Homo sapiens: one gene and its partners. The protein of the gene in region 3 interacts with the protein of the main gene of each other region in a pairwise test. Each region holds a gene or a part of one and is shown on either strand. Other genes may lie near its edges.

Evidence for each region.
Region 1: the proteins of SNRNP48 (region 3) and CDCA7L interact in binary tests that used the Homo sapiens proteins (3 or more experiments, as listed by UniProt).
Region 2: the proteins of SNRNP48 (region 3) and ENKD1 interact in binary tests that used the Homo sapiens proteins (3 or more experiments, as listed by UniProt).

Annotation. Positions count from the first base shown.
Region 1 is NC_000007.14:21,942,779-21,950,220, reverse strand, and holds the start of CDCA7L (cell division cycle-associated 7-like protein), read left to right. Parts: upstream 1-4,321; 5' UTR 4,322-4,416; coding exon 4,417-4,440; intron 4,441-7,442. UniProt on the Homo sapiens protein: Plays a role in transcriptional regulation as a repressor that inhibits monoamine oxidase A (MAOA) activity and gene expression by binding to the promoter.
Region 2 is NC_000016.10:67,663,630-67,670,995, reverse strand, and holds the start of ENKD1 (enkurin domain-containing protein 1), read left to right. Parts: upstream 1-4,245; 5' UTR 4,246-4,553; coding exon 4,554-4,638; intron 4,639-4,730; coding exon 4,731-4,925; intron 4,926-5,827; coding exon 5,828-6,000; intron 6,001-6,933; coding exon 6,934-7,059; intron 7,060-7,175; coding exon 7,176-7,339; coding exon of another isoform or gene 7,340-7,340; exon of another isoform or gene 7,341-7,343; intron 7,344-7,366. Other genes in the region: uncharacterized protein C16orf86, read right to left, coding at 2,396-2,823, 2,898-3,495. UniProt on the Homo sapiens protein: Microtubule-binding protein which regulates microtubule organization and stability. Promotes the stability of astral microtubules and facilitates the proper orientation of the mitotic spindle.
Region 3 is NC_000006.12:7,585,293-7,593,294, reverse strand, and holds the start of SNRNP48 (U11/U12 small nuclear ribonucleoprotein 48 kDa protein), read right to left. Parts: upstream 3,098-8,002; 5' UTR 3,038-3,097; coding exon 2,882-3,037; intron 1-2,881. Other genes in the region: DSP (desmoplakin), read right to left, coding at 7,417-8,002. UniProt on the Homo sapiens protein: Likely involved in U12-type 5' splice site recognition.

The DNA of each region.
Region 1 (7,442 bases), on a different chromosome or scaffold from region 3:
AGGCATTAAAGTTTCATCATGATGTGTATTTTTCTGCATCTGATATATGGACAGATCTGATTTTTGATTGTCCAGGTTATTTTGTCATAAGCCATTAGGGTGATTTTCATCACAGTGTTGTGACAACATCATCTTGACATACCAAGTCAGGAAGATGGAATACCGGGTTGTAATAATAATAAAGAAAAACGTTCCAGAAACGCACCCAGTCAGTGTTAGATGATGATTTTACAAAAGACTCAGTTCTAGATCTTTGATTCTGTAGCAACTTGGAAATTTTATATCTGAATGTTTCAAATTTAGGGAGGTCTCCCCATTCTAGGGTAGGTGTTATCTGATCACAATGAGATGGAAGTTTCAAGAGACCAAGAGCTAGAGAACAACCAGTGATGTTTTCCTGTTTAACGGTCACTTTATTTATTCACGACCACATACAATGCCAAGTGGTACTCAGATACTGTTACCAGCTAGGTCCTAGTCTGTTCTGCCCTGAACAGTAAATCAATTAGTGTGACATGGGTTTTGCAAAAGAAAAAAAAGATTTATTCACAAGGGCATGGAGTGAGGAGGTGGGAGAATAGCTCTGAAGTACGCCTCCCTGAAGATAAGGCTTAGGGATATTTATGGGTTAGGGAAATGGGGTGGTCTGAGTTATGGGGAAATGTAATCGGCACTGGGAAAAAAACGAAGTAACAGGCTCATTCTGCACAAATGTAGCCAGAGTTCATGGCATTATATAGGACATATGTACAGAAAAATGGCAGTGTTAGCATGATCTCAGGGTGGAGTTTTTGACCCTCTGACATCAAAAGGCCACCTCTCAGGCACTTGAAGAGTCAGTGGCCTCAACCAGTTTGAACTGGACAGAAGCTGGCCTAAGTTTCTGAGAAAAAAAAAAAATGGAAGCAACAGTTACCACGGTGACCTATGAACGTTATCTATAAAGTAGCCAGTGAAGTTAAGTCTCAGTGTTCAGTGGTGCGGTGTTCAGCTACTGCAGCCTTCAACTTCGTGGGAAAAGGAAACAACACCAAGAGGCAAATGACCAAAAGCAAGCAGGGGAGGCAGACCTAATGAAATTACCTCTCAGTTTCTATAGACTCATGCTGCTTCCAGCTCTCTGCAGAAGGCAGATTCTCTGGTGAGTTGTCCAGAGCACCAAACCAGCACGATTTTCTGTTATGTGGGGAGGACTAGGGAGTTTGCCCACAACTAAGCTCTGTGGGGACGGCAGAGATACTACTTCAGATAGAGGAGAGATGTTTGGGCTCCTTTTACAAAGCAAAAATCGTGGGCCAGGGTTGACATCCAATTACAGCTCTCTCACATCATTTAATGAGGTTCAATAATGGCTTTGTAGGGGAGTAAAACTTCATCTCCATCCTTTTGGGTCCTGGCTGGGTCTGAGGATTAAACTGACATAAAATAGATTAACAAGAGAAAAGCATATAGATTTGTCTAATCGAAGTTTTATGTGGCATGGGTGCCTTTTTAAGGAAATGAAGACCCCAGGATGAAGTTTGAGTTGGACATTTATATAGTGAATTGCACAGAGTAGTAAAACTGAAAATGCGATGAGGCAAAGGGGCATGGGCTAGTGTAGTTAATTGGGTGGAGAAGTGACTGAGAAGATAAGGGTTAGTTTAACAAGGTTTGTTTGTACAGATTTCCCTCAGCTTCAATTTCCTGTCTTTGATAAGAATGTGGCTTTCCTTCTTGTGTAGGGAGGACAGCTTTCATAGGGGAATTTTATCTCCTGCTTTTAAGAAACAACATTAAGTTCAGAGTGATCTTCTCCTACCTGCTTTTTTTTTTTTTAAGTGCTTTTAACTAAAAATAGTGAATATGCCAGAGCAGCATATTTTAGTGTGGCATTATTAACTCCTTTGGCTTCTAATCACAAATTTCTTACCTTGTTCAAGGTACTGGGGACCAAGTTTTTACTCTCTCATGGAAACATTTAAAAAGCAATCAAGCATGGATTTCTAGACAGACTTCTTAAAAGAAGTTGCAAACATTATGTCTTCTTTTTCTGTGTTGCAATATGTATACTGTTGCATCTGGAAGGGACACTCATTCTTGCAGTGCCATGATGAAACCCAGTGCTCACATCCCGTGAACCCTATCAGTAATAATTATTAGAAAGTATTACTGCAGTGCCATGTTTAAATCCTCTGGTTCCTTAGAGATTTTCCCAAAGCCTGACCAAAACAAAACAAAACAAAACAAAACAAAACACACCACTATATAATCAATTACTAAATACCATCAAACGTGTACAGGCTTTGCTAAGCACAGGAAGAAAATTTAGGGGTTGTCATCTGAAGACTTAGGGTTAGTTATGGCAAATTTCTAAACAGAAAGGTTCAACAGCTTACAGGTTTCCTGATACAGAAGTAGCTAGTCTAGGCTGCTTCAAGTGTTTTGCAAAATCTGACCTGCTTCAAATTTGTGCTCCCTTTTCCAAAATTGATTTGATTTAACCTACAATGAAAAGAAGTGCAAACAAGATCAGCAGTTCATGAGGAAGCAACTATCTAAAAAAAAAAAAAGAGGAAGAAGAGCTCTGATTGAATTAATTTTCACTCTAAGCTTCCTGGCAGCCAAAGGGAAAAAATACAGAAAAATGGAAAGAATGTTGGATCTGGAGGCATAAGGAATGGTTTTCAGTTTGGCAGTCTGCTGCTGTCACTTAGTGGCAGGGTGGCAGGGATCTCTTAATGTATTTTCTTAGATTCTGTTTCCTTATTTTAAAAATGTGGACAATAAGGATCTGGAAGGATATTGAGAGGATTCAAGGAGATACTGCATGTGAAGGAAAACTCTAAAGCATAATAAAAATGAAGTGGCCATAATGAATAAATAACATTATCCAATAAAAACAAAACATTTTAAGTCACACAATGTTGTATTGGTTTTACTACCACCAGGAAGTGAGAACACTGAGGGCTGGAACATGAAAGCACATAACACATGTTGTTTGCTGAACTAACCAAAGGAAGGAAGGAAACCTTTTCCATGTTTTCTCTTCAAGCTTGAGTAAATGTTTGGCAAATTTCATTCACTCGTTCAATAAAGAAAAGATGAACGTCAGATCCTAAGCAGCTGAGAGGGGCTGCAGAAGGTCCTATGCGTACAGGATGCTCTACTGTAAACCTATGACCACGGTTCTAAATAGGTGTGCAACACTGTCCAGCAAACCTGCTGTGATTTCAGGACAACTTCATTTACCATTCTCCCCACTCTCTACTTCAACTCTCCCACAATTTCCACAAACTTAATTCCTCACTCTTCATATCTGAACTCTAAGAAGTATTCCCTGACCTCTATCAGATTGTCTTCCTATTTCACACCACCATTAATACCACTTGCCTTTTTTCTCATGGCATCATCGCTCCAAATTTACATTTATTTGCATCATCATTACATTTGTCATTGATAGTGGTATCAAATTAATATTAATTATAAATCTAATTTATAAAATTTACATCGTTATTACACTTATTTGCATCATTATTGTATTTATTTAGAATAATGCAATTAGGTTGGTAACTGGCTCTCAGGCTGTAAACTCCAACAGAGCAGGGGCCTGTTTTTGTTCACCCTTCTGTTCCTAGGACTAGCCCAGTGCCTGATGCTTAGTAGATGCCGGGGTCAATTCTGTTAAATTAGTCAGCATTCCTGACCTCTACAAACTCTTTGTCTGGTGGGTGTGGAGGCCTACTGTGTAATGGCCGTCTAAAGTTTCAGGCGGGTTTGCATCTGTCCACCTGGGCCTTGGTAAAGAAACCTGGGTTGCCTGTTCTGCAAAGTGAACCCTGTAGCAAATGTTTTGGGAGACAGAATCTTCCCAAAGAGAACCCTGCCCCGTTACAACAACAAAACAAAACAAGCCCCAAAGCCGCCCTACAATATTTGCCTGGATCAGAGACAGGGGTTGCAGCAGAAGCTCGCGCCCCAGGGCATGACCTGGAATAAACCCTGCCAAGTATCCAGCGCGCGTGCCAGCTGGAGGCTGCGCCGGGACAGCCCCCTCATTTCTCCCGCGCTAAACCCCGCCGGACGGCTCCACTCCCTCCCTCTGCTGCAGGGGGGAGCCCGGCGCCCTAACACTGGTAATTGCTCTTGCCGCGCCCAACTGCAGCCCCCTCTCGCGCCGCCTGCGAAGACAAGGTCAGTGGCCGCGAAGTTGGAACGTGATCGGAGCCACGAGGCCCAGTGAGGCGGCACCGAGGGGGCAGCGCAACGCGCTCCCCCTGTCCAGGGCGTCAAGTGCGCCCCTCCCGGGGCCCGCCTGTGCTCCGGGCGGAGCGCGCTAGCTGCTCGGGCGCGGGGCGTTCTTGGTGCGCCGGGCCGTGGTGAGTCCGGGCTCCCGTGGCCGCGTGCTGGGAGGAGACTGGAGCCCGGTTAGGAAGAATGGAGTTGGCGACTCGCTACCAGGTGAGGGTCCGGCCGCCCGCCGCCGTCCGGACGCACCCACAGTTTGACTTCCCTTTGCCACCCGGTCCTGCTGGCCTTGGGCTGGAAACGTGGCCCTTGGCTGCGGCACTGGGGATCTGGCGCGCCCAGCCGGTTGAGTGCCGGAGTGGGCGCGCCCTGCAGGTGTGCGCAGTGGGTCACGTTTGTGCTACGCGGACCACAGAGGCCGGTCGCCCCAGCACACAACCGCGCTCAGCCTGGCGCTCTGCTCAGTCTCGGGTGGCCGCCGGGGGTGCAGGCGGGGAGCTAGCGGGGCGCAGCGCCTGCGTTTGCAGCCCTCGTGAGACGGGGGAGGGGCTTTTTTTGTGCACTCCCCACACTTTCTCCGGGAATTGGCACAGAGATCAGGAAGCTTAAGAAAGTTGTAATTTTTTTTTTTTAACAGTCGATCGCCAGACCAGTCCAACTTGGATAATGGAGTTTAAAAATAATAACTTTAGTGTTTATTCTAGAACTTTTGTAAACGTTTTCAAGGAATTAGTAACCATTTGGGGGAAATGGTAACGTCATTGGGCCGAGTTAAACAAGCTGCAAGATCCCAAATCATATGCACAGCACGACCCCAATTACGCGTTAAGGGCCTAACTCGTCTTTAAAACTCATTAGCAAACACTTGAGTAAGTTCCCCCAAACGTTTCAGTGAGTAGTGGGAATGTGAACGTGACTTCAGTTTTCTCTTTTTACTTCTTAAAAGAGCTTTTCTCTACGTTATCGTAATGGAGATACATGTTTACTTAGAAGTAAGCAATAAAAACATTTTTCATAAGAACTAAAAATACAACCTTTAAAAAGGGAAACAAGCAGCCACGCCTCTGCTTGTGGGAGCACGGAGATGCTTTGTGCGAGGATTGTTTTTTTTTTTTTTTCCACTTGTTTTATTGAGAGTCGCGAGACTCACTGCTTCCACCTTGCTTCCGACTGGTGTTTACTTTCCTCCACCTGCGTGCCTGGCCCGGGAGAAGGGGAGGCGGGGCCGCCAGCGTTGGAAGGCGCAGAGTGCCCGGCGCCCGAGCCCAAACCGCTGTCACCTGCCCGAGTCTGGCGGCAAAGACTGAGCCACTAACGGTAGCTTTGGCCTTTTAGTAATTTCTGAAGCCTTCCTGAAAATGGTCGCTTGAGAAAAATCTGTTGTTGATGTTTCTGAGAATATTTTTAAAATGCCTCCTGTGAGATAAACTATTAAAAGCAAGGGAAACAGTAAAGCCTACGGAATGAGACAGGGTTCGATTTTTTATTTTTTGCCACTGGCTTTTACCGTGTATTAGCATCCTTTTTTTTTTTTTTTTTTTTTTGGAGACGGAGTTTCGCTCTTGTCCGGGGTGGAGTGTAATGGCGCGACCTCGGCTCACTGCAACCTTCGCCTCCCGGGTTCAAGCAATTTTCCTGCCTCAGCGTCCCGAGTAGCTGGGATTACAGGCGCCCGCCACCACGCCTGTCTAATTTTTTGTATTTTTTTTTTTTTTTTAGTAGAGACAGGGTTTCACAATGTTGTCCAGTCTGGTCTTGAACTGCTGACCTCAGGTGATCCACCTGCCTCGGCCTCCCAAAGTGCTGGGATTACAGGCGTGAGCCACCACTTCCGGCTGGCGTCCTAACCTTCTAGGAGTTTCTGTTGCTACAGGACTAAAAACAAAAAACAAACCCTCTGGATGGAGATTTGAGCTCCTTGTGAGTTTAGTCAGAAAATGTATCTGGAATTTATCACTCCGGAGCTCCTTGTGAATGTAATCAGAAAATGTTTCTGGAATGTGTCACTCCTGTTGTTAAGCTGGAGAGTTCTTTGCACTTCCACTACTGATATTCATAATTCATGCTTAGGAAACTCAGAAGTCCCAGAATGTGTAGTTGGAAGTGAGCGTTTACTGCCACACAATGAGGCTAATTTTTGGTAGTTCTAAAATGTTAAATAAACTATTTATCATGTAGGGGTTACCCACAAATTATATCCGATCCATTATGCACCAATTAAGGCAAATTACTATATGTAAGATGATCAGGGTTTTTTTTTTTTTCCTTTTCTGAAGACCTAATTGGCAGTGCAAATCAAAGATGTGTGATGGTTTTTCCAGTGGAAATGTTCCTGTTCATCGTAATTTAAATGTGCACAGATTATAGTCTCTAAATTAGTGGAGAGTGGTTCTGTGGGGTGGGCAGGTGACTGCGGATAAGAACACTTAATGAACATTTCAGGCACAGCAAGATGTTAAATTCGTGTGGTTCCACCCTGTCCCCCAGCCTTATGAATAAAGCAATGTGATGAACCACCTGAAGTGGCATTACTGCACATCAAATGTCGCTCAGCTCAGTGTGCAGTGGGTTTTCATCTCACACATTGGAGTAAGTATAATTTCTATCGCTTGGAAAGCGCAGAGCTAAGTGTTTCAGCAAAGCAGCTTAGGCCTAATGTTATGAGTAAGAAGCAAACAAGGAGACTCATTTACTCTGAACTACTTTCGAGTCTGCTTTCCTGCCATCCCACCAGTGTGTTGGATTTGATGTCCTCTGACAGTGATTACGCTTCCCCCAGGCTGTAGTCTTGTCGTGCTGACCACTGTGTCTTTGTGCTTTTATATAAAATGACAGAAATAGCTCGTAAAGGCAAGGGTGTGATCCCTGACTAAGAGCTGTCAACAGTGCAGCTCATGGGAGCTCCAGCTTGCTGCAGCTCCGTAGGAGAGAAACTGGTAGGCACTGAATGTCAGTGTTCTCCTCGTACTCTGTTCTAGCTCCAGAGTACAGGATGGCCCATTTGAGAAGGAAATGATGCTAAATGTTCTTGTAAATAGGCAGGAGCACGCTGTTGAAGGGGTAAAGGGGTATTTTTCTGGTATTGGTCTCTTAGCTGCAAAGTGCTCCCATCTGATCCTGTTGTTTAACATGTAATTCCAGAGCCCCAGAAGCTGGTCACAGAAAGGACAATGATTTGCCACTCTAATAGTCTTGTATTTAAAACGCTCCTTGGT
Region 2 (7,366 bases), on a different chromosome or scaffold from region 3:
TGCAGCTCCTACTACCCACCCTGCTTAGACAAGTCCATTGGGTAATAGGCCTCAGGAATTGCAGACTAGTTCTCCCACGATTTCTAATTCCTGCCTCACCTGTGAGAAGACAGGACCAGCTCTTCCTTATCAGTGCTGGCCTCGTTCACGCTTCCAGCCCTGGAGACCGCACAAAGATACAGAGGCCTTCTTGGGTCCGGCCTTAGCCAGAGAGCCCCCAGGTCGGCAGATCCTGCACAACTCAAGACAGGGATTCCTAGATCCCAGGGTGTGGTCTCATGCAAGGCCACTTCTCTCCAGGCCTCTGCCATCCCAAACATAAAGCAAGGAGGTTAAGCTCAATTATCTTGGCTGGGTGTTTTGGCTCATGCCTGTAATCCTAGCACTTTGGGGGGTCAAGGAGGGAGGATTGCTTGAGGTCAGGAGTTTGAGACCAAGCTGAGCAACACAGACCCTATCTCCACAAAAAAAATTTTTGGCCGGGCACGGTGGCTCACATTTGTAATCCTTGAGTCCGGGAGGCAGAGGTTGCAGTGAGCCAAGATTGTGCCACTGCACTCCAGCCTGGGCAACAGAGCGAGATGCTGTCTCAAAGAAAAAAAAAAGTCCTGACCCCCATGGCTTGTCATGGGGCCAGTGAGCACCCAAGTGACCCTGTCAAAGGAGGGAGCAGGCTGGGATGATGCCAGAAAGGGGACCCTGCTTTTCCCACCTGAACCTGCCCACCCTACTCCCTCCAGTGACCTTGCCAGGCCATATTCCAGGGAACCTACATATTAGACTGTGGCCTCGGGATGGCCTCAGCATTTCAGATTCTGGCCTGTCCCTCTCTGCAGCTTCCTCCACCCCTCACTTCAGTCTCATCACCTTGGTGCCTTTTAAGGGGCCCTCTGGCTAGGTCGATGTGATGCAATGAGATGTGCCCTTAGGGAGCTCACGGTCTAATCCCGATGACAGTTATAACCCACATGATAGCAATGCGCAGGGGCTGCAATGCAGGGCAACATGGGGTGCTGTCTGGCTCCCCAGGAAGCAGAATCCCAAGTTTTCAAAGGTGTGCGTGCACTAGCCAGGGGGAGAGGTGGGAATAAAGGCATTTTAGGCAGAGAAAGCCCCACATGCACAGAGTGAAGGGAGGAAAAGGTGTAACTGCTCAGGGAATTACCGGAAGCCACTGAATTCTAAGGTAGCTGGGGCAAGAGGAGGGGAATCCCAAGGGGGAGTGACACCATCAGGGGCTCAGGTGTGTGTGTCACAGGGCCACTGGATGGATCCGTGGGCCAAGGGATGACAGGCAGGGTGACCAGTGAGGCTGTCACCTGGAGATGACAGTGGTCCAGGCGACGGTGCTGACTGTGGGGTCCGAGAGGTTCTCAGCCTGAAAGGGTAGGATCACTGGCCTCAATGTCTGCTTAGCTTGTAGGAATCAGGGAGCAAAGAACAGGATGGGGTCTGGGGTGACACCCAAGATTCTAGCTTAAACAATTGTGCAGATGAGATACAGGAGGAAAAGCCAGTTGGAGGAAGGGGAAATTTCCATGAACTTAAAATTCCCTGTGTCTGTTTGTGGTGTCCAAGGAACACACAGGAGGCCCAGGATGTGCAGTTTCCAAAATGGCCAACACTGGCTGGCTCTTCCCAGAGATCCTTGCCGGTTGGACACAGCTGTCATCCAGTGGCTTGGCCTCAGGGTCCCAGATGCACTTACTGCCCCTGTCCACCCCTGCCTGCCAGGAAAACATCACTGATGCCCTGTCACCTGTGACCAGAGGCTACTCCACAGACAAGGTCCGGTCCAGCTATGGTCTGGCAATGAGTAGGAAACATCCCAAAGCTGTCACTGTTGTGACAGGCAAAAGAACTCTGTGCTACCTCCTAGGAGGATCCCAAGTTTTGATCCCCTCAAGGTGAGACCAAATGCAGGCCCTTCCCCAGGAGACAGAAGAGCAGGGCCAAACACCTGCTTCCCATGACCCAACAGACCCTTTCTTTTCTCTGCCCCAAGTTCCTCCTTCTCACTTCCCTCTTCATCACCCAGTTAGCTGCCTGACCCTCAGATTCACCTAAACACACAGCACCAGGTCCACCCTGATTCAGTGAGGCATGGGGTGGCACAAAGGAATCTGTCATTGTCAAAGTCTCAGGTGATGCAGATGACCATTCAGGCCTCAAACCCTGCACTGTTGAGTCCTCCATCCTCTTACCCATTTCAGGCAACCTATCTGGGGAATCACAAAGTCTTTGAAAAAGAAAAATATTTATTTTCAGCAAGACCAAAGTCCCAAGTGGGGGCAGGTGCCAAATTTGCCCCCGCCACCAGAGGGCCTAGGCCCACAGGAAGCCTGAAGCCAAATTCAGGCGTGGAAGGAGGGGAGCCACCAGTGGGGCGGGACAGTCACTTGTACTGAGGAGAGAGCGGGGGGACAAGTGGAGCAGTGCAGACACTCAGCATCTTGTCGATGTCCACCTGGGTTGACTTATCCACCTCGGCCTTGTGGTCACTCACCCCCAAGCTGGGCAAGCCCCCAGGCTCCTCTCCAGCCTCCTCTCCGAGGGGAGCCAGGGCATGGGTGGGGGTCACTAGTGGACTGGGACAGGGCAAAGCGAGGCCTGGGCCCAGCTCACCTGCCAAGGGCAGCAAGGCCTGCAGTTGCTCCACACCTCCCTCCTCGGGAACCGGGGCCAGCTCTGCCTCTGCCTCCACCTCAGCCTCCCCGTCCCCCTTCCCTGCCTGGTTCAGCTCAGGGTTGCAATAGTTGACGTACTGGTACAGCGGCCGCAGGCGCTGGGCCTTTCCTGCAAAGACCCAGGGCAGGGCAGAGGCTAGAGCGCCAGGTTGTGCCATGTCGGGCCCCACAGGCAGGGGGAGAAGGAACAGTCCAGGGACTGCCACTCACGCTCCAGCCTCAATGTCTCTAAGGGTGCAGACACCATGCTGGCCACAGCGTGGAGCACGGGAGCCCCCAGGCTCTTGCGCTTCTTGGCTTTTTTGTGCTGTTTGGCAGATGGTGAGGGCTCACTCTGGCTGTCCTCTGGCTCCTCCTCCTGCAGCGGCAGCTTGGGTGGCAGCTCAGCTTCAGCCTTAAGATGGGCACGAAGGCCCGGGAGGCTGAGAGACCTGAGCCAGGGACAAGAGACTTGAGCCAGGCTCCAGCCCTGGCTCCCATTCCCTGGCCCAGGGAATAGCCCAGCCTGCCCACAGCCCCAGGGCTCGACGCCTGTCCCGTTCCTGGTCAATGAGACCCCAGGCCCAAGAGGCTTAGAGGCCAGTGAGCCCAGGCCCCTACAAGCCCTGAAGCTCCCACTCTCCTGCTGCTCCCTACACGGGGGCTCTTGAGGAACGGGAGGAGAGTGATGGTAGTGGCTGGGGACGAGAATCCTCCCTGCAGGAGTGCAGGATTTAGGAATCCTACTGTGGTGTGTGCCCCAACCCCGGGGCTGCAGCTCCTTCCCCCCGAGAGCCCCCTCACTTGACAGGCTTTCTCTTTGGACCATGACGGGGCCTCACAATGGAGACCACGGGCCTGGGGCCTCTCTCCTCTAGCGCCCCGGCATGCGGCTTGGGCCGCTCCTCCCCCAGCTTGGGTCCTTCCTCCTGGAGCTCCGACTCCGAAGCTGCGCCTGCTGGGCGCTGGTCTTCACTCTGGGTTCCGCGGGCCTCATGGGCAGGCACCAGGAACTGGTCTCCCGCCACTGGACACTAGAGATGACACACAGGCCATCGGTCACCATGGCCGGGCAAAGGACATAGGGATCCGTCACTGAACACCTAACGTTAGACACCGAAACGGGAATAAGGACACCAGCCTGTGCCCCTCCCCGCCTGGAGGGCCCAGCCTGGCAGTTAGCGGGTCGGGGCGCTCAGTTCCACCTCTCAGAGCGCTGCGGCCCTGTGTTTGAAGGTTAAACAGCCTGACGGTCACCTCGGAGGTCTGAGCGCTGCCGGGCTCCTCCGTGAGCTGTCCCTGCCCCACGACCGTCGCCTCCTGGACCCCCGGCCGCCTCTCCGCCCCTGCCGAGGCCATGGCTGCGCAGGCTGAGTGCGTCCTCGACAGCTGCTTGGGGCGGGCCCCAAGGGGCTGGATGGTGGCCCCGCGCTGACCCCGGAGACCGGCCAGCAAGCGAGGGCAGAGCTGGGAAGAGAAACCGGCGACCGCGGAGCCCACCCTCGGCCGAAACTACAAGCCCCAGGACGCTTTGCGCCGGGGTCAGTGGGCCCTGACCCCGGGGACGGAAGCCACGGTTGCCCGGCAACAACAAGTCCCGTCGGGTGGCAGCGGCTGGCGGCAAAACCTCTCGAGTGAGCCCCTGCCCGAGTGCCGCGGGGGAGAGGCCGCGAGCGGGACCGAGAAGTGGGCTGGGAGCAGAGGTCGCGGAGGTGGCGAGCGAGGCCGGGGCCCAGGCGGGGACCGGCAGGGGCCCGGGAGTGGCGGGCACGCCAGGGTCAGGGTGCCGGGCGAGGGAGGGGGCCCGGGGTTGGGGAAGGGGGCCCGGGGAGGGAGGTAAACAGCCCTGCAGGCCTCGGGGCACCGTTGCTGGGCGGCGCCGGCGGCATGTGCGAGGGCCCGTCCCGCATCTCGGGGCCCATCCCCCCAGACCCGACGCTCTGTCCTGACAACTACAGGCGGCCGACCTCGGGTGAGTCCGGGGGCTTGGCGGTGGTGCGAGGCTCAGGGGTCGGCCCTGGCTCCACCTCTGAGCCCCGGACTCCGCCCGGCTCCGCCCCACAGCTCAAGGGCGCCTCGAGGGAAACGCGCTGAAGCTGGACTTGCTGACTTCCGACCGGGCCCTGGACACCACCGCTCCCCGTGGCCCCTGCATCGGTCCCGGTGCCGGAGAGATCCTGGAGCGCGGCCAGCGCGGCGTCGGGGACGTGCTGTTGCAACTCGAGGGGATCTCCCTAGGTCCTGGGGCCTCTCTCAAGAGTAAGTCCCAGGAATGGAAGAAGGGACAGAGAGGCAGTGCGGGGTGGAAAGAGATCAAAAGCAGCTGCTCTTTCCACCCTGACGTGGGCCCAGGCTTTGCATCTCTTGAGTCTCAGTTTCCCCAACTATAAAAGGGGGAGAAATATGCTACCTTCTCGAAGGAGGTGAACTGAATGAGGTAGTTCCCACGAAGCCCTAGCTCTGCTTTATGCATTTGTTACCCATTAAATTTGTTTGTTGAGTGCCTACTGTGTGCCAGGCCATATAGATGCTAGAACACAGGGCTGAAGATAAGCATGAGCCATCACTGAGTCAAGGTGGGATACAAAGATCAAGAGATGAATGTCATATATGAGATGATCTATGGTGTACTTCAATGGTGTACTTCACTATAATAATGGAGGAAATCACCTGGGCGCAGTGGCTCACTCCTGGAATCCCAGCACTTTGGGAGGCCCAGGCGGGCAGATCACTTGAGTCCAGGAGTTGAAGACCAGCCTGGCCAACATGGTGAAACCCCATCTCTACAAAAAATACAAAAATCAGGCTGGCATGGTGGAGTGTGTCTGTAATCCCAGCTACTCGGCAGGCTGAGGTAGCCGGGGAGGTTGAGGCTACAGTGAGCTATGATCATGCCACTGTACTCCAGCCTGGGTGACAGAGTGAGACCCTGTCTCAAATAATAATAATAATAATAATAATGGAGAAAATCATCCTGTGATACTTACTACATGAGGAAGGGAACACGGTGATGAGGGAGAGTGTGTGTAGGGTCTAAGGTAGTTGGAGAGGTCAGGGAGCTCTTTCTGTAGGAGGCAGGGGGCAGGCCTGTGTGTGAACTAGTGGAAGTTGGACTGTGTGGGCCCCATGTAGGGCAGAACCTGGGGGCATCTTTTCTCCAGGGAAGGACCCTAAGGACCATGAGAAGGAGAACCTGAGGCGGATCAGGGAGATTCAGAAGCGCTTCAGAGAACAGGAGCGCAGCCGGGAGCAGGGCCAGCCCAGGCCCCTGAAAGCTCTGTGGCGCTCACCCAAGTACGACAAGGTGGAGTCCCGGGTCAAGGCCCAGCTCCAGGTACCTGCTTCAGGGAGCCAGAAGTATTATCCATTTTGTTGGCCAACAGGCAACTGTACCCTGATCTGAGTTCTGGGGTGGGAGGGAAGTCACAGAGGTAACAGAGGACTAAGAGACCCTGGCTCTGCTGCAGGGCGAGGCTGGGGGGCTTCTCAGAAGTAGTGATGGTGGGGCTGATCCTGAGGGCAAGTAGCAATTAGTCAAAGGGACAGCAGAAGAGAACATTCCCAAAAGATGGAACCTCACAGACCACAGGGCACGCAGCAGTGGAGATGCTAGGTACAGTTCACTGTGAGGAAAGAAGGGCGTGAAGTTAGGCCAAGAAGTCAGCTGGACCCACGTCAGGGGCCACAAAAGCCACTTTTCAGCCCTTATTTCTGAGGACAGTGGGAAGGGCAGGGGTATGGTGGGGGGCTCTGTCTCAGGGACTCAGTAGGAGGAGCAGGAGTGAGAGGAAAGGCAAGGTCACACAAATGTGTTGTAGCTGAAGCATCTGTGGGGTTCCCAGGGGGTGGGAGTGTGTCCAGGAAGCAGATGGAAATTCAGGCCTGGATCTCAGGAGTGAGACCTAGGAGTTATTGACGATCAGGTTGAGGACAACGAGACCAAGGAATTGACCGCCTGGATTTGAGGACTTGGAGGCCAGCTGTTAGGAGCCTTGCAGGGCTAGAGCCAGGAAGCTTGGCTAGGAAGGAGGAAAGAGAGTGGTAGCTGGGCCAGTACTGAGGTGGAAGGAGAGATGGTTTGTTGTTTTCTTAAAAATCTGACATACTCACACATTTGTGTGCTGATGAGGACAAGTGTCCCTTGAAGAGGGAAGAGGGCCCGAGGGACATGGATGCAAAGGTCAGAAGGGCCAAGATGGCCAGGGTCTTGCAGCTTGAGCCCCAGACCTCAGCCTGCCTGCTCTCTCTGCTGTGCCCTGCCCTCCAGGAGCCTGGCCCTGCCTCTGGGACAGAGTCTGCCCACTTCCTGCGGGCGCACTCCCGCTGCGGCCCTGGCCTCCCACCACCCCATGTATCTAGTCCCCAGCCAACCCCACCAGGTCCCGAAGCTAAGGTGAGAGGATGTATGGGGGCTAGATGGTGGTTGGGCAGGGCTCCTGGTGTGGGGGGGGTGTTCAGGGACACAACATAATGCTGTCTGCCCCCACCCACGCTTGCTGTGTCCTGCAGGAGCCAGGCCTGGGGGTGGACTTCATTCGTCACAATGCACGAGCTGCCAAGAGAGCCCCCCGGAGGCATTCCTGCTCACTGCAGGTCCTGGCACAAGTGCTAGAGCAGCAGCGGCAGGCCCAGGAGCACTACAATGCCACGCAGAAGGGCCATGTGCCACATTAGTAGGTCTCACTGCCCGACACTCAGGG
Region 3 (8,002 bases):
TTCTTTCTACCTCTCTGGCTTCTTCTACTTGGTCTCCTCTAAATATCCTAAATATCTGTCTTCCTTGCTCTATTTGTCCCCCTTTAGATGTTGGTTTTCATGTAAGTATTAATATAACCACTGACCTTTTGCTGTTTAATATATGCTTACTGAAAGATCTCAAAGCTACAACTCTCACTATACAGTGAGGACTCCCAAAATTTAGATCTTTAAACCTTGTTTCTCTCCAGTACCGTATATTAAAGACACTAAAAGTTCAACACAAACAAAAATAAATTAATTATATTCATCATCTCCCAACCCTCAAATCTATTCCTTTTGTACTTTTCTATTTCAGTGAAAGGTCCCCCTTGCTCAAGCAAGAAACTACTTCTCCCTCATCACCCACGTCCAATCAATCACCTAGTCCTGCCAATTTAACTCCTAAATATTTCTGAAAATCCCTCAACATCCTCCATCCCCACTGCCACTTCCCCAACTCAGGGTATCATCAACTCTCTCCTGGAATACAACACCATCTCCTGACTACGCTCGCTCGCTCTCTCTCACTCTTGCTCTCTCTCTCTGCTTCCAGTCTTGCTGCCCTCCCCTTCAGTTTCCATCCTGTAGCTGGTTTGAATTCCATCTCTGCCACTTACTGGCTGCATGAAACTGGGTGAGGTACTTAATCTCTCTTTGCCTCATTTTCTATTATATAAAATAAAAATAATAGCAGGACCTCTCTCACAAAGTGATTGTGAAGATTTAAAAAAGTATACCAAAGTTTATACACATAAAGGAATTCAAATAGGGCCTGGTACATAGCAAGCATTCAATAAATGTATGCTATTATTTTATTAAAAGGTAAATGTGATTATAATATGCCCTGGCTTAAAATAATTCCATACCTCCCCACTGCCTTCATTAAAAAAAAAAAAAAAAATCTAGACTTTCTAATATGGCTGACAAGGACCTTTAAGATCTGACCTCTACCCACCATCACCATTCTACTCTAACTCTACACTCTATGCTCTAGCTATCCTTAACTACTTGAGGCTTCCCGATCTGGTCACTCCCTGTCTCTGAACTTCTACACATGCTGTTGATGCTTCTTCCCCGCACCCGCCAACCCCCTAGCCAATTCAACTCACTTTTATTTATCAGCTTAGAATTCACTTTGTCCAGGAAGCCTTTGCTGACCACCACTTTGTCCACCACCGCCTACAATAAACTGTACTATAGCAATTCCAACCCCACCCATCACAGACCCATGATAATATAATGGTTCAGTTATCCGTATTACCCCTCATCACCACCAGACAATAAGCTCTGTGAGGACTAGGAACTAGGTGACAACTAGGACTAGGAACTAGGTGACAACTAGGACTAGCTCTGTGAGGACTAGGAACTAGGTGACAACTAGGAACAGATGACAACTAGGACTGTTGTTCACTAAATTTCAGTACTAAAACACCGGCGGAAATCCTAACTGCCATTTACTAGCAGTGTATCCTTCGACAAATTATCACTTCTGTGTTCCTTTCCTCGTCTATAAAATGTGGCCAAAGATACCTACCTCATAGGGTTATTTTGAGTATTAAATGAAGTAATGTAAGTGGCAAACAAAGTGCTATTTAAACGTTAATACAAGGAATCCAATGTTACCGCAATGCTGAGTAAACAATGTATGGAAGGGTCTGGTAAGCCCCACTCAGTGGAATTCCCAGCTTCAAATACCCCTCTAAATGAATATTAAAGATTTTTTAATTTCCTCTGTGCTTTTAATACAATAAACAATGAATGGTATATACAGAAATCAAATATATTTTAAATGCCTCTGAGGAATCAGTCATGTAACTTAAACCCAGGAGAAATTATCACAGCATGGTAAACCCAGAAGTAATAGTAAAGATAATGAATTACCCCACATTGGAGCACTTCCCTTCCTCTCATTCCACCGAAAATACCCCACAAAAAAACAAAAATCACGAATGTTCACTCTAAATACACTTGCCTACATTTTTAAAAAAGCAATTCTAATGTCCACAGGAGTTGCCAGTTACCACCTCTTGGTGACAACCTTTAATAATCCTAGAATTGGTGCTGTCCCAGTCAGAAGTGTCCAATTTTAAGGCACAGAAAGGCGAACTGGCAAACTCCCAGCTCTCCTGACACCGAATCTGGTGCAACTGCGGAATCCGTATGACAGATGACAATGCAAACCGCCAATCCCTCTGCAGCGCTCTGAGACACGTTCACTTATTTTCTAAATAAATACCAAATCTGCCATTCCCTCCTCACTCAACACACCTTCCTGGATTTTGTTTGTTTGTTTTTTGAGACAGGGTCTTGCTCTGTCGCCCAGGCTGGAATGCAGTGGAGCGATCTCGGCTCACTGCAGCCTCGACCTCCTGGGCTCAAGCTATCCTTCCACCCCAGCCTCCCAAATAGCTGGGGCCACAGGCTCACACCACCACACCCGGCTAATTTTTGTACTTTTGGTAGAGAAGAGGTTTCACCATGTTGCCCAGGCTAGTCTGGAACTCCTGGGCTCAAGGGATCCTCCCGCCTTGGCCTCTCAAAGTGCTAGGATTACAGGCGTGCGCCACCGCGCCCGGCCCCCGGTTTTCTTTAAACTCGAAGTTGCGCGGGAGGAGCGCCGCACTGGAGGTCGATGTGGAGCCTTCGGGAGTTCCTCGCGCGCCCCAGCCCGGAACCCAGGGACGTCAGGGTTGCTCCAGGGCCCCCGGCGCCCCTCGGGTCCCAGGCGCCCATCGCGGCTCTGCACACGGACGAGGACTCCTCGCCCTTCCCTCCGCGGCTGCCAGTGCGGATCTCCCTTCTTCCAGAGAAGACCCCGGGCCGATAGTCCCCGAAAGGGCCCCGCGGCCGCGCTCCTCACCTCCGCCGCCTCCTCTTCCCCGGGATCCAGACTATCTAGGTCCCAGCCCAGGGACGCGGTCACCTCCTCCAACGTCCGGCAGCCGCTCTCCACGAACTCGTTCAGCTCCTCCTGCAGCCGCCGCCGCTCCTCCACAGGTGGAGGCTCGCCCTCCATAGCTGCAGCCCACCCGCCAAGAGGAAGCGGCCGAACTGCAGACCGCACGCGCAGGCCTCTGGGAGCTGTGGGCGGGGCCACAGTCGCCACGTGACTTGAACAGCCTATAGGGAAGAGTCCCGGGAAGGGCGGGACTGTTATTTTGAGAGGCGTTTTCCAATCTTTTCTCAGCTCTTGCGTGCATTTGCTCTGGCCTTTCCAGAAAGATATTCGCCCTCCTCGACTTCCTCAGAAAAAACGGCTTATAGCTACAGAAAAGTTTTAAAAATAGTACAATGAGCTTTCGTTTAGCCGTCCTTCAGCTCATTGTTAACATTTTGCCAGGTTTGATTTCTCTCCGTCTCTTCTCTCCACATTCACAGCCCCACCCAATGATTTTTGCTGAATTCTTTGAAAGTAAGTTGCAGATTTTTCACCCCCAAATATGTTAGCATGCATGTTCTAAGAATAAGAACATTTTCCTGTGTAACCGCAATACATGATCAAACCTAAGAAAATTAGTAAGTCCATAAAATCATTTATTATACAGTTCATATTCAAATTTCCCCATTGTCCCCAAAATTATTTCTATAGCAGTTTTATTTTTTCAACTCATAAGCTATAATTAGTTATTGTCTCTTTTAATCCAGATCAGCCTCCTTCACCCTCCTTTTTAAATTATTAAATCATTACATGTTGTGATGAGCCTAGGCCAGTTGTCTTGTAGAATCTCTCTCATTCTGGATTTGTCAGATTTTGTTTCCCTCATGATTAGATTCAGTTTGAGCACTTTTGCAATACTACCTAAGAGATGTTGCCAACTCACGGGGACGCATAACTCAGTTATATTAGTAATGCTAAATTTGATCACTTGGTAAAGGTGGTGGCTACATCTCTTCATTCTAATAGTACATTTTCCTCTTAGGAATTGGTAAGCAATCTGTGGATTATACCTTGAGTCCATAAGAATAACCTGTTCCCCAACTCCTTGATACAGTCCTTCACTGAATCTGTTGTTACATTAGGAGTTATAAGTGATTCCGCAATAGTATCATGCCTTTTATGTTTATTAACTGGCATTCTTTCCACACCTCCATTTTAGTGTTTGCTTCACTATGGGAATCAAGGTGTTTTTAAAGTTATTGATTTAAGGTTTTTTTTTAATTCAATATAATATACTCCTTTAACATCATAATTCTTGTTGATGCTCAAATTGTCCCAAATGTGGCCAGTGGAAGCCACATTAAGCCATCTGTGTCTTTCATGTATCCCTATTAGTCCTTGAATGCTTTCTTGCTTTGATAACACAAGCTTAACTTTGTACATTTCCTACCCAACACCTGGAATTAGCCCTTGTAGTTTCCCCAAATGGTTTCAACTCCTAGAATCTAACCCATTTTATATTACTTTTTAAAATTTTTTCAAGCCCAAGTGTCAAACCTTGGTTTCCTTTTGCACTTTGTTTACCCATGTGAAGGAACTGTGGGGGAATTTTTTGGTGAACAATTATTTCTAAAGGCAAATAGCACGGTTCTCACTTAAAAAAATAGTCATAAGACTATAAATAGGCAGCACCATAAAATACAGAAGTGGCTAGAAGCTGGTAAGAGAGGAGTATGAAGTTAATGTATTCATACTCTGCCTACAGTATCTTTTTTTTTTTTTTTTTGAGACGGAGTCTGGCTCTGCCACCCAGGCTGGAGTGCAGTGGCGCAATCTCAGCTCACTGCAACCTCCATCTCCCGGGTTCAAGCAATTCTTCTGCCACAGCCTCCCGAGTAGCTGGGACTACAGGCACATGCCACCACACCCTGCTAATTTTTCTATTTTTAATAGAGATGGGGTTTCACCATATTGGCCAGGCTGGTCTCGAACTCCTGACCTTGTGATCTGCTCGCCTCAGCCTCCCAAAGTGCTGGGATTACAGACGTGAGCCACCGCGCCCAGCCCGGTATCCTTACTTTTTATTTGCATTTCCATAGTTAGCTGGTTGGTCTGGAAAAATGTGAGACTATTTCTGATGTGACATGACTCCTGATAAAAAGTTCTAGTGTATATTTCCCTGTTTGTATATGTGAACCAAATTAAAACTTAGCCCACGTCAAACATATCCTCTCTTCAGGATACAGCCCCATGTCATCTCAGAGCTTCATGACAACATTGGCACAAGCCTGGAGGGAGTAGGAAAGATTTGTCAATTGACTGTACTCTCTAGTTACTGTTTCAGCCCGAGGAACTGCTCTACACTGATGCTGCTGATCTGTTTTGATATCACTTTCCTGGAGTGGTCTCCAGACTCCTGTTCTAGGCTAGGCCTCTGTTATGGATTGGATTGAGTCCCTCAAAAATGCCTATGTTGAAGTACCAACCCACAATGTGACTGTATAAGGAGATAGAGCCCTAAGAGGTAATTAAAGTTAAATGAGGTCATAAAGGAGGGGTGGGTACTCTAATCAGATAAGACTGATAGCCACCCATGAGCCAGGTTTCACTAGAAACCAGCCCTGCCTGCATCTTGAGCTTGTACTTTTAGCTTCCAGAACTGTGAGAAAATACACTTCCGTTTAAGCCGCTCACAGTCTGTGGCATCTTGTTATGGCAGGGTGAGGTGACTAATATAGTCTCCCAGCTCTAGCATAAGGAATTTCCTTCATTTTTCCCAATACAGCATTTACCACATTTTCTTCTTCCTTTTGGATTATGAGGGCTCTTTTTCACCATGTATTTCTAGCACAGACTCCATGGCTTCTGGCACAATGCATGGCACGCGAACTCAGTATTTAATGCATAAAATTAATTTCAACTCCTCCAAATTAGGAGAGGGAGTAAGGAAGAAGAGGTGAAATAAGGAAGAAAAGAGTGCTGTGGAGGAAAAATAGCCCATGCAATGAGAATGGAGGTGACTTTCACCCTAAGTACCAAAAGCCCCCAATAATTAATCTAATCTTGATTTTTGTTCTATACAATTAGCATGTTTTCCTATTTTCTATCTGTACTATAAAATTTGTATTAATATATACTGCTGACATTTGAAAGTTGTCCCACTGATTGCTTTATCTGTTTCTGTCCCCACCCATATTGCCAATGCTTTGTTGTCGGGGGCTTGTAAATTCTACTCAGTCTTCATAGTACCTAACCCAATACTAGACATGGTGGGTATTCAGTGAAGTCATGTTAATCTAATGACAAATGTGTGAATTTCAGTAGTTTCTCTTTGATCCAAAGGAATAGGCTTATACTTCCTTGTCCTTCAACAGAGAGCCAAGAACTCTTCAGAAATCATTTTCATGGGTTCCAGGACAATTCTTTCCTCTTACGGGACAAAGTGAAACACTATCTATTTTGAGGATACCCAAAAAGCATCTTAGCAACTTCATGTTTTTTCAATGCTATGATGATGACTTTTGCCAATGCTACTTGGTACTCAATGTCCAGAATAAACTAGAACAGGTTATTGACCTCCAGGCTGGCCTCTTTACACAGGCCTTCTTTCCAAGGACTCCATCGGGTACATGACAGGCATCTGAGAAGTACCGAAAGGACTAACTTCAAAAGACCACCTTCTAGTAAGAATTCAGAACCAAATAGTTTTTTAATGGTATTTCTTCACAGGTATTTAGTAAACAAATATTTTTAGACCTATGATAAAAATATGCTAAATGTTTATACATGCTTATAAACATATTAAATTAAAACACAAACACTTCAAAAGTCTAAAAGTTTATTGCCAGAATAGCAAACTTCATAAAGACACCTTAAAGTACATCGAATATGACAAGCAAAATAAACAGAAAACTTTGACCAAAGAAAAGATTGCCGCTGTCATGCACAGTCAAATTAATACCAAACCAAACAAGTACATCGAAGAGTATATGGGTTATACAATCCACACTCTGAAACTAAAGGAGACTCATTCCAAAATGCTTGGTTTTGGGTTGGGGGTTTGAGAGGGGGGCTGGTGCTGGGAGGGTAATTTTCTCCTAATACAGAATATGGAAATATTTAGATGAGAAGCAGAATGACTAAAATATCAGTGATCCATTTAATTTTTATCTCCAAGAATAGAAAACTGTATTATAGGCTTCCAAAATTAAAGAATTGATCAAAAATCGAAACACAGAAGAGAAGAAACAAATCCTAAGTTCGATTTGTGCTATTGTTACAACTGATTAGCACTTCAGACGCACTGCATCCAAGTGTACTGCTTATTTAAGATGAGCTAAGAAGATAAAAAGCCAGAACAGCCTTTACTATTTGATTTCAATCATGGCTATATTTTCTGTAAGCATAGAATGTCCTATCACTCTACTGCAAGCACCGGGATTTTCTTTTCTATTATTTAATAAAGTGGAAATTCATATAAATGAAGTCAAGGTATAGCAACCACTCCCAACTGACTACTAGTGCCCAATAGAACTACTGCTAAATGAGTAGGAATAAGAGTAGGAAGAATTCCCTGTGGCGTCAAAGCTTCCTCTCCGGGACCCACTGCGGGACCCGGAGCGAGATCCGGAGCGAGATCCCGAGCGGGAGCCGGAGCGGGACCCCGGAGCCGAAGACATGTTGTAAGGGCTGGGTAAGCCCTTGGACGACACGGAGGCGGCTTCCAGAAGGCGCAGCCCAGTGATATCTTCTACCATGGAGCGATTTATGGCATCCTTATAGGATATTTTTAATTTGGTTTTGGGGCAGGTCAGGATTTTGGCATAGCTGCTGGTGTCTTGCAGCCTCTGTGCGGCGCGGCCATCTATGAACCCCTTCCGGATGGCTTCTTCGGTGCTTATCCTCCCATGCACTTCCGGGTCAACAAGACCTCCCGTGAGGTACTGGAACTCCAGGAAGCGCTGGCCAGCCTCATACGGGAGCCATTTTTCTTTCACTGCCTCTGCTGCTGACATCTTCTTCTTTCCCTTCACACCCTCGAAGCCTATGAAGGCTTTCTGAGCAGGCTTCAGCCTGGTGGCCATGTCTTGGTCAATCACACCC